2 separate regions of the Homo sapiens genome follow, and region 1 is linked to region 2. Evidence: fine-mapped expression QTL. Tissue or cell type: whole blood. Region 2 holds a variant in brackets; the other region holds the start of a gene. All regions are shown on one strand. Distances are from middle to middle.

Region 1 (5,117 bases), 77 kb after region 2:
TTGAAGTCTTCAGCGCTGCAGACCTCCCCCCGGAAGTGGCAGGAGAGCAGCATGTCTCGAATGTCGTGCCCAGCTCGGTCGTAGAACTCACGCATGTTGAAGGGTTTGGGTTTGAAGCTGCGGAAGTTGGCTTTGTCCTGCAGTATCTCCAGCTGCTTTTCATCTGCCATCTGTGTGTCTGGTATCTCATACCTGGGGTCCGGGGGTGAGTGACACACGGGTCAGTACAGTCATCAGTGTCCTGCACCCAACTTGGGTGATGGGGGCAGCCTCCAGCCCTGGGGATCAGTCCCAGGTGTAGGCAAGGAAGGAGAGCTGGGCATGCAGAGGCTCTACCACATGGGTCTGAAATGACAGGAGGAACTGTAGTGGCTGCCCAGGGGCAGGGCATCCCATCCCAGCACATGGGTGAGAGGAAGCATGGATAAGGTGGGCAGAGAGACAAGGCAGGGGCTGTGGCTTTTATACTGTAGTTTCTACCCTTTAAAGATGTTCTGTCCCCATCCCCCAACTGACGAGAAGGTCAAGACAGAGTGGCCAGAATGAAGGTAAAGCTCACTCCAGAGAGGGTGACAATGTCTCATACCTCAGGCTGGGTGGGGGTCGAGCTGTTCTGGACTATGCTGGGATCGGAGGCTGGGTGCCCTTAACTGGGTGCTCAGCAGCACCCTAACTCCTCTGCTGTGAGTGGCAGGTTTGGGGGTGGGGGTGGGTTAAAGGGCAGGGTTGGCTGGGCTCTATGGTGGGTCAGGGAGGCAGACATCCTGACTGGAACTCAAGCAACTCCAGGAGCAGGGCTGAGGGAGGGTGGGAGCCACCCACCTGTTGTTGAGCAGGGCCAGCAGCTCCCCAGCATGATACAGGTCATTCTTGGAGACTTGGCTAAAGCGGAACTCGTTGAGGTTGCACAGCGTGACAGCAGGGAAGGTAAGCTGAGAGGCAGCCACCTCGTCGAGCTTGGTGACATGGTGGTAGTGGAAGTAGTACTGCACACGCTCCGTGCACACACACAGCAGCACAGCCAGGGAGCCCAGGAAGCACAGGGCCCACAGTGCCCGCTTCAGAGACAGCCGCTCGTAGGAGAAGATGTGGGCCAGGCCGTGCAGTGTGGAGCTGCTGGCGAAGGCCTGGATGCTCACCGGCTGGACGCCACCCACCTCCTCCTCCTCGGCCTTCAGTTCCATCCTTGTTGAGGGGATCCTGGGGGAGGAGGGAGGGACAGTCTATCATTGTCCTGGGATGAAAGTACACATGGAGCCCCTCCACATGTGCCCATCCAGAATCCTCATCTCCAGAGGTCACCACTCCTCGGGCAGAAGACTTCCCTGCTTTGCAAGCCCAGAGGTGGCTGACCAAGGGACACATCCAGGGTTCCTCCAAATACAGAGGCACAGGGGGTCAGGTCAGGCCAAGAGAATGCTCCCCAGAGAAGCTTCCCAGGCCCGGGGAGACCCCAGATATAGTCATCCGAGGTTGAGGGGGAAGTCCTGATGCACCCATAGGCAGGCGCAGGAGTTCCCTCCAGATGTGGGGTCACTCTGGGACAAGAATATCCACCCCATCCTGGAGATGAAAACTCACCCAGATGGGCTGACCCCGGGGTAAGGAGCTCCTGTCCTGGTCACGGGTATTCCCTGGACGGGGCTGTGGTCCTAAGGGCTAAACTGGGGCCAGAAAACCCCCAGGGAGGTGGCTACATCTAGGGAGGGGCCCAGCCTGAGTCCTCACCTGCGGGTGTCTCCAGTTCTCACATAAGCGCAGGCTGTGTGTATGTTGGGAGTGGGGGGTGGCGGGCTGCCCGAGGTGGATGTATGGAGGGGGGGCGCGGTTCCCTATGACAGCGAGCTGTCCCCGCCCCGGACGCAGCCCCCCCCAGTCCAGCTTCTCGTCGCAGTCAGATCCCCAGCTCGGCCCCCGCCCCCCTCCCCAGCCACCGAGCCGCCCCAGCAGCAAGGGAAATCCAGAGGGAGGAGAGTCCCGGCTTCGGGGTACCGAGGAGCCTCGCGGCCAAAGGCAGGGGTATCGGAAACCCACCTGAGGGGGCTTCGGCAAGCCGGCAGCCGGCGGCGGGTCCTGGGGCGCTGGACCGGTGGCGGGCTCAGCGCCGAGTCGCGGAGGGGCTCATGGCCCGGGGCCGGAGCCCGCGGCCGCCGCGGCACGCCGCGCAGAGCCCTGCAGGGAGCGCCCCGCCCGGCCCCGCTCGGCTCCGATCTGTCCGCCCGCCCGCGCGCGCTGGCTCGCTGGCTCGCTCGCCTCGGCTCGGTCTGCCCGGGCTCGGCGCGGTGCGCGGTGCTCTCAGCCCTGGGATCTGCAGGGATCCATCGTCCGGCCGGGAGGCGGCGGGAGGGGAGGGGGAGGGGAGAGGGTGCGCGTGCGCGCCTACGAGTGTCTGCGAGGCTGTCTCTGGGCTGGTGTGCGCGCGGGGCCCCGGATCCGGGAGCGGGACCCAGGGCTCCCCGCGCCGCCTCGCCCCTCCTCGCGGCCGCTTTCGGCGGCGCTGCCTCTCTCCAGTCCCGGAGCCGTCTCCCTGCCTGCGAGGCCCTATGGCTTGTGTGTATGACTCTGTGTGTGGTGTGTGTGCGCGCGCGCGTGTGTGCGCGCAGGAGGGAGGGTGTCTGCCCCTAGCGTCCCTCTCCCCGCGCTGTCTCCTTCGGATCGATGCTCCTGCCTCTTGCTGCTGCTTCCTCTGGTGGCACACACGCGCGTACACACACACATACACACACACGCTCCGAGTCACACTTGACTAATTCAAGCACTTAGCCCATATGGAGACAGACACACATACCGACCAGAGTCACACCACACCATTCACAACCACACCCCCCCGCAACAGATGTCCACGTATCCCGGGGGCCTGACCCACATGGCAAGCACTCACCTGCTCTTATCCCTGCTCCCACCTGCATGTGACACATATACACGTGCACATATGTGAGCCAACACGCAGCCTTGACCACTCAGATCCCATCCTTGTAGCTTTGGGCTTGTGGGGGGCATGGTCGCAACCCCTTACTGCCAAATCTCCAAAGAAGGAGCAGAGAAAAGGAAGGAAAAATAGCCAGAGGTCAAGGGAATTTGGACAGAAGGAAGGAGGCAAAGGGAGTGAAGGGGACAGGGTGAGGAAGGGTTGGAACGGGGAGCTATGCTCAGGGATGGAGCAGAAGTCTCAGCACAGAACGCAGGCCTGGGGGCTGCTCCTGTGGCTCTCACCTTTCTCCTTCCCTGCCTCCCTCCTCTTCTCTGAGAGGCCTTGGGGAGGGGGGCCCTCCCTATCCAATTAACAGAGAAGGAGCAATCAAGGGGAAGTTGTTAATTTGCTGATGCTCATTAGGGGCTCTTAGCACAGAGGCTGTTGAGGTCTGATGGTGTCAGATGATGAGGAGGAGGGTGCGGGGGACCAGAGTTCTGTCTCTAGTGGCTCCTTCGCTCTACTTGCAGGCTGGTGCGGCTCGGGGAGAAGGATGGTGAGAGGTGTATTCCTAGGACATGGTGCCGGGCTTTAAGTTAGAAGAAAACCTGTAACGAGAAGGGGATGGCACATTGGAAAGAAGTTGGATGAGAAGTTGGGAGTAGTGGACATCTAGGAAACCAGAGAAGGGGTCTGGAGGTCCCTAGTGGGAGAGTGGACTTAAGATTGTGGAGGAGGGAGGTCGAGATCCATTTACTAGGGGACTGGACACGGAGCTGCCAAAAGGAAGGGAGGATCTTCCATTCAGGTCTTGGGGAGCTGTTCAGCGGTACCAGGCAGTGCTGGAGGGTTGCTATGCCCCCGGGCAGCCACTGGGTGGCAGCCCTCTCCCAGATACTTAGAATCAACTCGTGGGGGGCATTTGAGAGTGGGAAATCACCTGGGAGGGTCCCAGAGACCTGAGGAAGCATCAGGCAGAGTCTGATTCCTGAATTCCAAATATCCTCAGGGGGAGGGGAACACTATTTTGGAGCATCTGTAATTTCCCCACCTCCCCGCGGCTCGCAGGCTGACTGACACGTGGAGCCTCTTCAAATGGCTGCAATTGCTTCAGTCACCTGGGATGTTACTGAGGGAGCAGCGGGGGTGGAGGGAAGGTGATGAGGTGAGGTGGAGGCAGGCGAGGACTGATTGAGGCCAAGGAGCAGCCTCAGGAGGAGTCTGGGGGAAGACAGAAGGTATGAATCAGGAGAATCAGCTTCCAGACCTGGCCCTGCCATTCATTAGCATAGGCAGGCCCCTTGACCTCTCTGGACCTCGGTTTCCTCATCTGTAAGGCAGAGATAATATTTATTTCACAGGATTTTTCGAGGATTACATGAGCTAACGCATGGAAAGTGCTTAGTACATTGGCATGTACCTAGTAAATCCCAATAAGTAAATAACTATTATTAGTATTAGCATTTGGATCTAGTGGTAAAACCACCAGTGCAGCCAAACCAGGGCAGAATCTAAGGCACTGGTTCTTAACCCAGGCTGCACATTCGAATCACCTGGGGAGCTTTTAAAACTGCAATGCCAGCTGGGCGCGGTGGCTCACTCCTGTAATCCCAGCACTTTGGGAGGCAGAGGAGGGTGGATCGCCTGAGGTCAGGAGTTTGAGACCAACCTGGCCAACATGGTGAAACCCATCTCTACTAAAAATACAAAAAGTAGCTGGGCGTGGTGGCGGGCACCTGTAATCCCAGCTACTCGAGAGGCTGAGGCAGGAGAATCATTTGAACCTGGGAGGCGGAGGTTGCAGTGAGCCGAGATTGTGCTATTGCACTCTAGCCGGGGAGACAAGAGCGAAACTCCATTTCAAAAAATAAAAATAATAAGATAAAACTGCAATGCCAGCCAGGCGTGGTGGCTCACGCCTGCAATCCCAGCACTTTGGGAGGCCGAGGTGAGTGGATCACCTGAGGTCAGGAGACCAACCTGGCCAACATGGTGAAACCCTGCCTCCACAGAAAATACAAAAATTAGCCAGGCGTGGTGGCACGCACCTGTAATCCCAGCTACTCAGGAGGCTGAGGCAGAAGTGCTTGAACCCGGGAGACAGAGGTTGCAGTGATCGGAGATCGTGCCACTGCACTCTAGCCTGGGCAACAGAGCGAGACTCTGTCTCAGAAAAAAAAAAAAAAAACTGCAATGCCATGGCTCC
Region 2 (5,000 bases):
GTATGGGTCAGTCACTGATGTAGGGAGTGTTCAGTTAAATGCTAGGTAGCCAAGGGAGAGTCTAAGCAGAATGGAAACTTTTTTTTTTTTTTTGAGACGGAATCTCAGTCTGTCGCCCAGGCTGGAGTGCAGTGGCGCGATCTCAGCTCACTGCAACCTCTACCTCCCAGGTTTGAGCAATTCTCCTGCCTCAGCCTCCCGAGTAGCTGGGATTACAGGCACATGCCACCAAGCCCGGCTTATTTTTGTATTTTTAGTAGAGACGGGGCTTCCCCATGTTGGCCAGGCTGGTCTCGAACTCCTGACCTCAGGTGATCCGACCACCTTGCCCTCCCAAAGTGCTGGGATTACAGGCATGAGCCACCTCGCCCGGCCAATGGAAACTATTCTATATGGGGTGGGGTAAGATTCTTAGAGAATAATGCAGGACGTTGGGTTGGCTGGTGTTTCTAGGGCCCAGCTTTTACCTCCCTCTTCTATTTCCATTCCTTCCTAGGACTTCCTGATCATGTTTGTGCATCACTTGGTCACCATTGGGCTTATCTCCTTCTCCTACATCAACAATATGGTTCGAGTGGGAACTCTGATCATGTGTCTACATGATGTCTCAGACTTCTTGCTGGAGGTAAAAACCCAATCTCTCTTTCTCCATCTTCTTCTTCTCTTCTTTTCTTCCTATGTGAGGAATGACTTTCTCCCCAGCTCAATTCTTTCTTCCTTTCTCCAGGCAGCCAAACTGGCCAATTATGCCAAGTATCAGCGGCTCTGTGACACCCTTTTTGTGATCTTCAGTGCTGTTTTTATGGTTACACGACTAGGAATCTATCCATTCTGGTAAGTGGTAGGGCTGTAGAGTTGTGGTAGGTATGAGCCTAATGATACCTTTTTGCCAATTCTCATTTTGCCCATTCAGTTTTTCTGTTCTATTCTATTCTACTTTCGCCAATAGAACACAAGAACCCTATTGCCCTGCTTTTACCTTAGCCTGTGCTGACCTTCTGTGGACTCTCATAGGACCTCTGCTGCCTCAGACCGTATTTCTAGCAAGGTCGGATCCAGACTCAGAGTACCCGGCTTGGTTGGCTTCTCAGGACTGACTCATCTCTGAGGAACAGTCCTCATTTTATGCCTAAGTAATTCCTTTGACTTCTTTTGCACTGTTGATACAATTCTCAGTCCCTTCTTGCTTGTGTTCCTGCTCTGGTCCCAACCCTGACACACACACACACACACACACACACACACACACACACACACTCCTCTCTCTCTCTTCCTCCCTCTCCTCTCTCTCCCTCCCTCCCCTCTCTCCCTCCCTCCTCTCTCTCTCCCTCCCTGTCCTCCTCTCTCTCCCTCCCTCTCCTCTCTCTCTCTTCCTCCCTCTCCTCTCTCTCCCTCCCTCCCCTCTCTCTCCCTCCCTCCTCTCTCTCTCCCTCCCTCTCCTCTCTCTCCCTCCCTCCCTCTCCTCTCTCTCCCTGTCTCCTTTCACTTTTACATTCACTGCTCTATGGGAATCAGCTACCTACTGTCCTATCCTATATGTGCCTGAGGAGCTCAGTCATTCATAGGATTAGAGTCCCACTGCTGTCCTAATTTCGTGAAACTCTGGATATTTGAAGTGATTAATAATGTGACTTAATCCATCAGTTCCTAAGATTTATATATCTTTCTCTGTCCCTAAGGATAGAAAACACAACAGGCTCCTCCCTTTCTTTATTTTCTTACTGTGGATGACGGTCCCTGGAACTTCAGCTGATAAAAGGGCTGGTAGGAAAACACACAGGGCTCTGCATCCCCAGGACTCAGCTTCATCCCTGTCTGCTGAGCTTTGACTCTAGAATCTGACTATTGGCCTCCCTCTTCTAGGATTCTGAACACGACCCTCTTTGAGAGTTGGGAGATAATCGGGCCTTATGCTTCATGGTGGCTCCTCAATGGCCTGCTGCTGACCCTACAGCTTCTGCATGTCATCTGGTCCTACCTAATTGCACGGATTGCTTTGAAAGCCTTGATCAGGGGAAAGGTGAGGATGAAAGATGGCTTCTTTCTTTTGGGTATGGAAGATAGGGATTACTCAACAGACGTTCTCTCTCCATCAAACCTGGTGAGCCCCATCTACTCAAGCAGGCCAAGCAAAAAGCCTAGGGCTCCAAAGTCTTCGCCTCTTCGGTAAGTGTTTTGCCTTTTTTATTTTAGAGACAAGGTCTTGCTCTGTCACCCAGGCTGGAGTTCAGTGGCATGATCATAGCTTACTGCAGCCTCACACCTGGGCTTGGATTCTCCCACTGCAGCCTCCCAAGTAGCTGGGACTATAGGTGTGCACCACCACGCCTGGCTAATTTTCTTATTTTTTGTAGATAGGGTGTCACTATGTTACCCAGGCCAATGTCCAACTACTGGCCTCAAGCAGTCCTCCCACCACGGCTTCCCAAAGCGATGGAATTACAGGTGTGAGCCACCACACCAAGCCTGTTTTACCTTTTTTTTTTTTTTTTTTCAGATGGAATCTCGCTCTGTTGCCCAGGCTGGAGTGCAATGTCACGATCTTGGCTCACCACAACCTCCACCTCCTGGGTTCAAGCGATTCTCCTGCCTCAGCCTCCCTAGTAGCTGGGATTACAGGCGCATGCCACCAGGCCTGGCTAATTTTTGTATTCTTAGTAGAAACGGGGTTTCACTATGTTGGCCAGGCTGGTCTCTAACTCCCGACCTTGTGATCTGCCCACCTTGGCCTCCCGAAGTGCTGGGATTACAGGCGTGAGCCAC[C/T]GCACCTGGCCTGCCTGTTTTACCTTTTAAGATGTGACTTAGACGCAAGAGGAAAGTTCTACCTTCTTCCTGTCCCTTAGGAATGGCTTTTGTTAAAGGATGATAGGGTTAAGAGTTTTTTAAGAGATGGCCTCAACCATTTCCTACCCCTTACCTACCTGCTTCAGTGGATTTCATATTTTTCTTTTTGACATGGGGCCCTTTTCAAAGGAAATCATATGCAGAACCATATAAACTGTATAAAAGCAGATTGTTAAGTTGCCTAGAAGTGGTGTGTGGTAGTTCACAAGCCACCACAAGGTGACCATGCTGTGATATTCAAGATATGGTTTATATAAGGAACTAAATACCCACCTCACCCCACTAGTGTATGAGGCAAGTGTCCTAAGTGAATGGGTATGTAGTGTTTCAAATACCCATCTTATGCCAAGAGCGAAAGAAAGGTGCCACTTAATGATAAACTCATAATTGAACTTTGCAAGTTTTGAAGCAGTCAGACTGTAGTCAAAGGGCTAGGGATTTCAGCCTAAAGGAATACAGAATCCCAAGTGGGAGGGGCTCTGCTTGAGCAGGTACTGATACTAGGACCAAGTGATGGAATGTGGCCTAGATATTGATGATCTCCTGCATCATTATTCCTTATAGCTGCCATTGGCTCAGAACTTGCTCAGTGTGCCTGTGCATCTTGCTGTAGCTACTGGACATCTCTGTTCTCTCCTGCTTTTCTTTCCTGACTAGGTGACCTGTCCAGGAAGGATTAGACCCTGTACTCTCCACTCTTTCCTCACCTCCTTCCTTTTTTCTATGCCTGGCGGGAGCTGGACAGTTTCATCTCTTGCATGTAAGTGTATCTGTGCTTCTAGTATTCAGTGAGGCATGTCCATCTGAATGTGGTTCTCTTTCCTCCTGCTCTCCTTTCTGTTCCCTTGTGTTTGTCTCAGAGCATGCCCTCTCTCCTGACTTTTCGGGGCCATTATTGACTAGAGCTGCAGTTGCCAGATTTTTTCCTAAACTGAGGCAAGAATTGAGTCTACTTTTTTTTGTTTTTCTTGAGTCTCTGTTTACCTCAAATCTAGAGACACTCTGCCCTCTAGTGGAAATTTCCTAAAGGTCAGGTAATCAGTTAGTCATCTAAGTTCAGAGGCCAACAGCTATAATCAACTGTAGAAGACCCATCCAACACAAATTCAAGGAGCTGATCCAAAGCAAATGCCCACCTCCTTGGCAACAGTTGTTACAGCTGTGTTCCTTTTCACTTCCTTCTCTCCTTTACTTAAACCACATTTATTATCCTTCAGTTCTGGAGGTCAGAAGTCCGACACAGGTCTCACTGGATTTCTGTTCTTTACTATTAGAGTCCAGGGTAATTTTTTTTTTTTAATTTTTATTTATTTATTTTTGAGACAGAGTTTAGCTCTTGTTGCCCAGGCTGGAGTGCAATGGCGTGATCTTGGCTCACTGCAACCTCTGCCTGCCCAGTTCAAGCGAGTCTCCTGCCTCAGCCTCCTGAGTAGCTGGGATTACAGGCATACGCCACCACGCCTGGCTAATTTTTTTGTATTTTTAGTAGAGACGGGGTTTCTTCATGTTGGTCTGGCTGGTCTCGAACTCCCGACCTCAGGTGATGCGCCCACTTCAGCCTCCCAAAGTGCTGGGATTACAGGCGTAAGCCACCATGCTCGGCCCTTTTTTTTTTTAGAGACAAGGTTTTGCTCCATTGCCCAGGCTGGAGTACAGTGGCGCAATCATGGCTCACTGCAGCCTCGACCTCCTGGGCTCAAGAGATGCTCCTGCCTCAGCCTCCCAAGTAGCTAGGACTACAGGTGCATGTCACCATGCCCAACTGATTTTGTCATTTTTTATTTTTTGTAGAGACAGGGCTCTCTCCATGTTGCCCAGGCTGGTCTCAAACTCTTGGGCTCAAGCTGTCCTCCTCCCTCAGCCTCCCAAAGTGCTAGGATTATAGGTGTAAGCCACTGTGCCTGGCTCATGGTGGAGAAATTGAAATACTTTGCTTGATATGCAGGATAGTTTAGATTAGGAAATGCTGCTGTAATCCAAATGCTTCATTTGAAAATAATACAAAACAAAAAAACCCAGGTTAATAAGCATTCACAGATGGTAGCATGATTAGAACTGGGATTCTTTTCTCATTGACTGCCAATCCATTTGTGTTTTCACTATACTGTGTATCTTGGGGATGCTGAAGTTTCTTTTTTTTTTTCTTTTTTTTTTTT

What was found. PIP is the estimated chance that this variant, and not a neighbour inherited with it, causes the effect.
Region 1: ASIC1 starts here. The variant in region 2 is fine-mapped to the expression of ASIC1 in whole blood (TOPMed, PIP 0.95).

What each region holds. Positions count from the first base shown.
Region 1 is chr12:50,054,834-50,059,950 of GRCh38, reverse strand. ASIC1 (acid sensing ion channel subunit 1) reads right to left here and starts at 2,355. Exons shown (of 12, transcript NM_001095.4): 1 at 2,035-2,355; 2 at 823-1,200; 3 at 1-192. The coding sequence starts at 1,184. RefSeq lists silencers at 2,153-2,322, 2,393-2,552.
Region 2 is chr12:50,131,566-50,136,565 of GRCh38, reverse strand. CERS5 (ceramide synthase 5) reads left to right here. Exons shown (of 10, transcript NM_147190.5): 7 at 497-625; 8 at 728-834; 9 at 1,864-2,020. Among named protein-coding and RNA genes, the nearest start is that of COX14, 22 kb to the right of the region's middle. The variant C/T (reference allele first, on the strand shown) is at 2,764.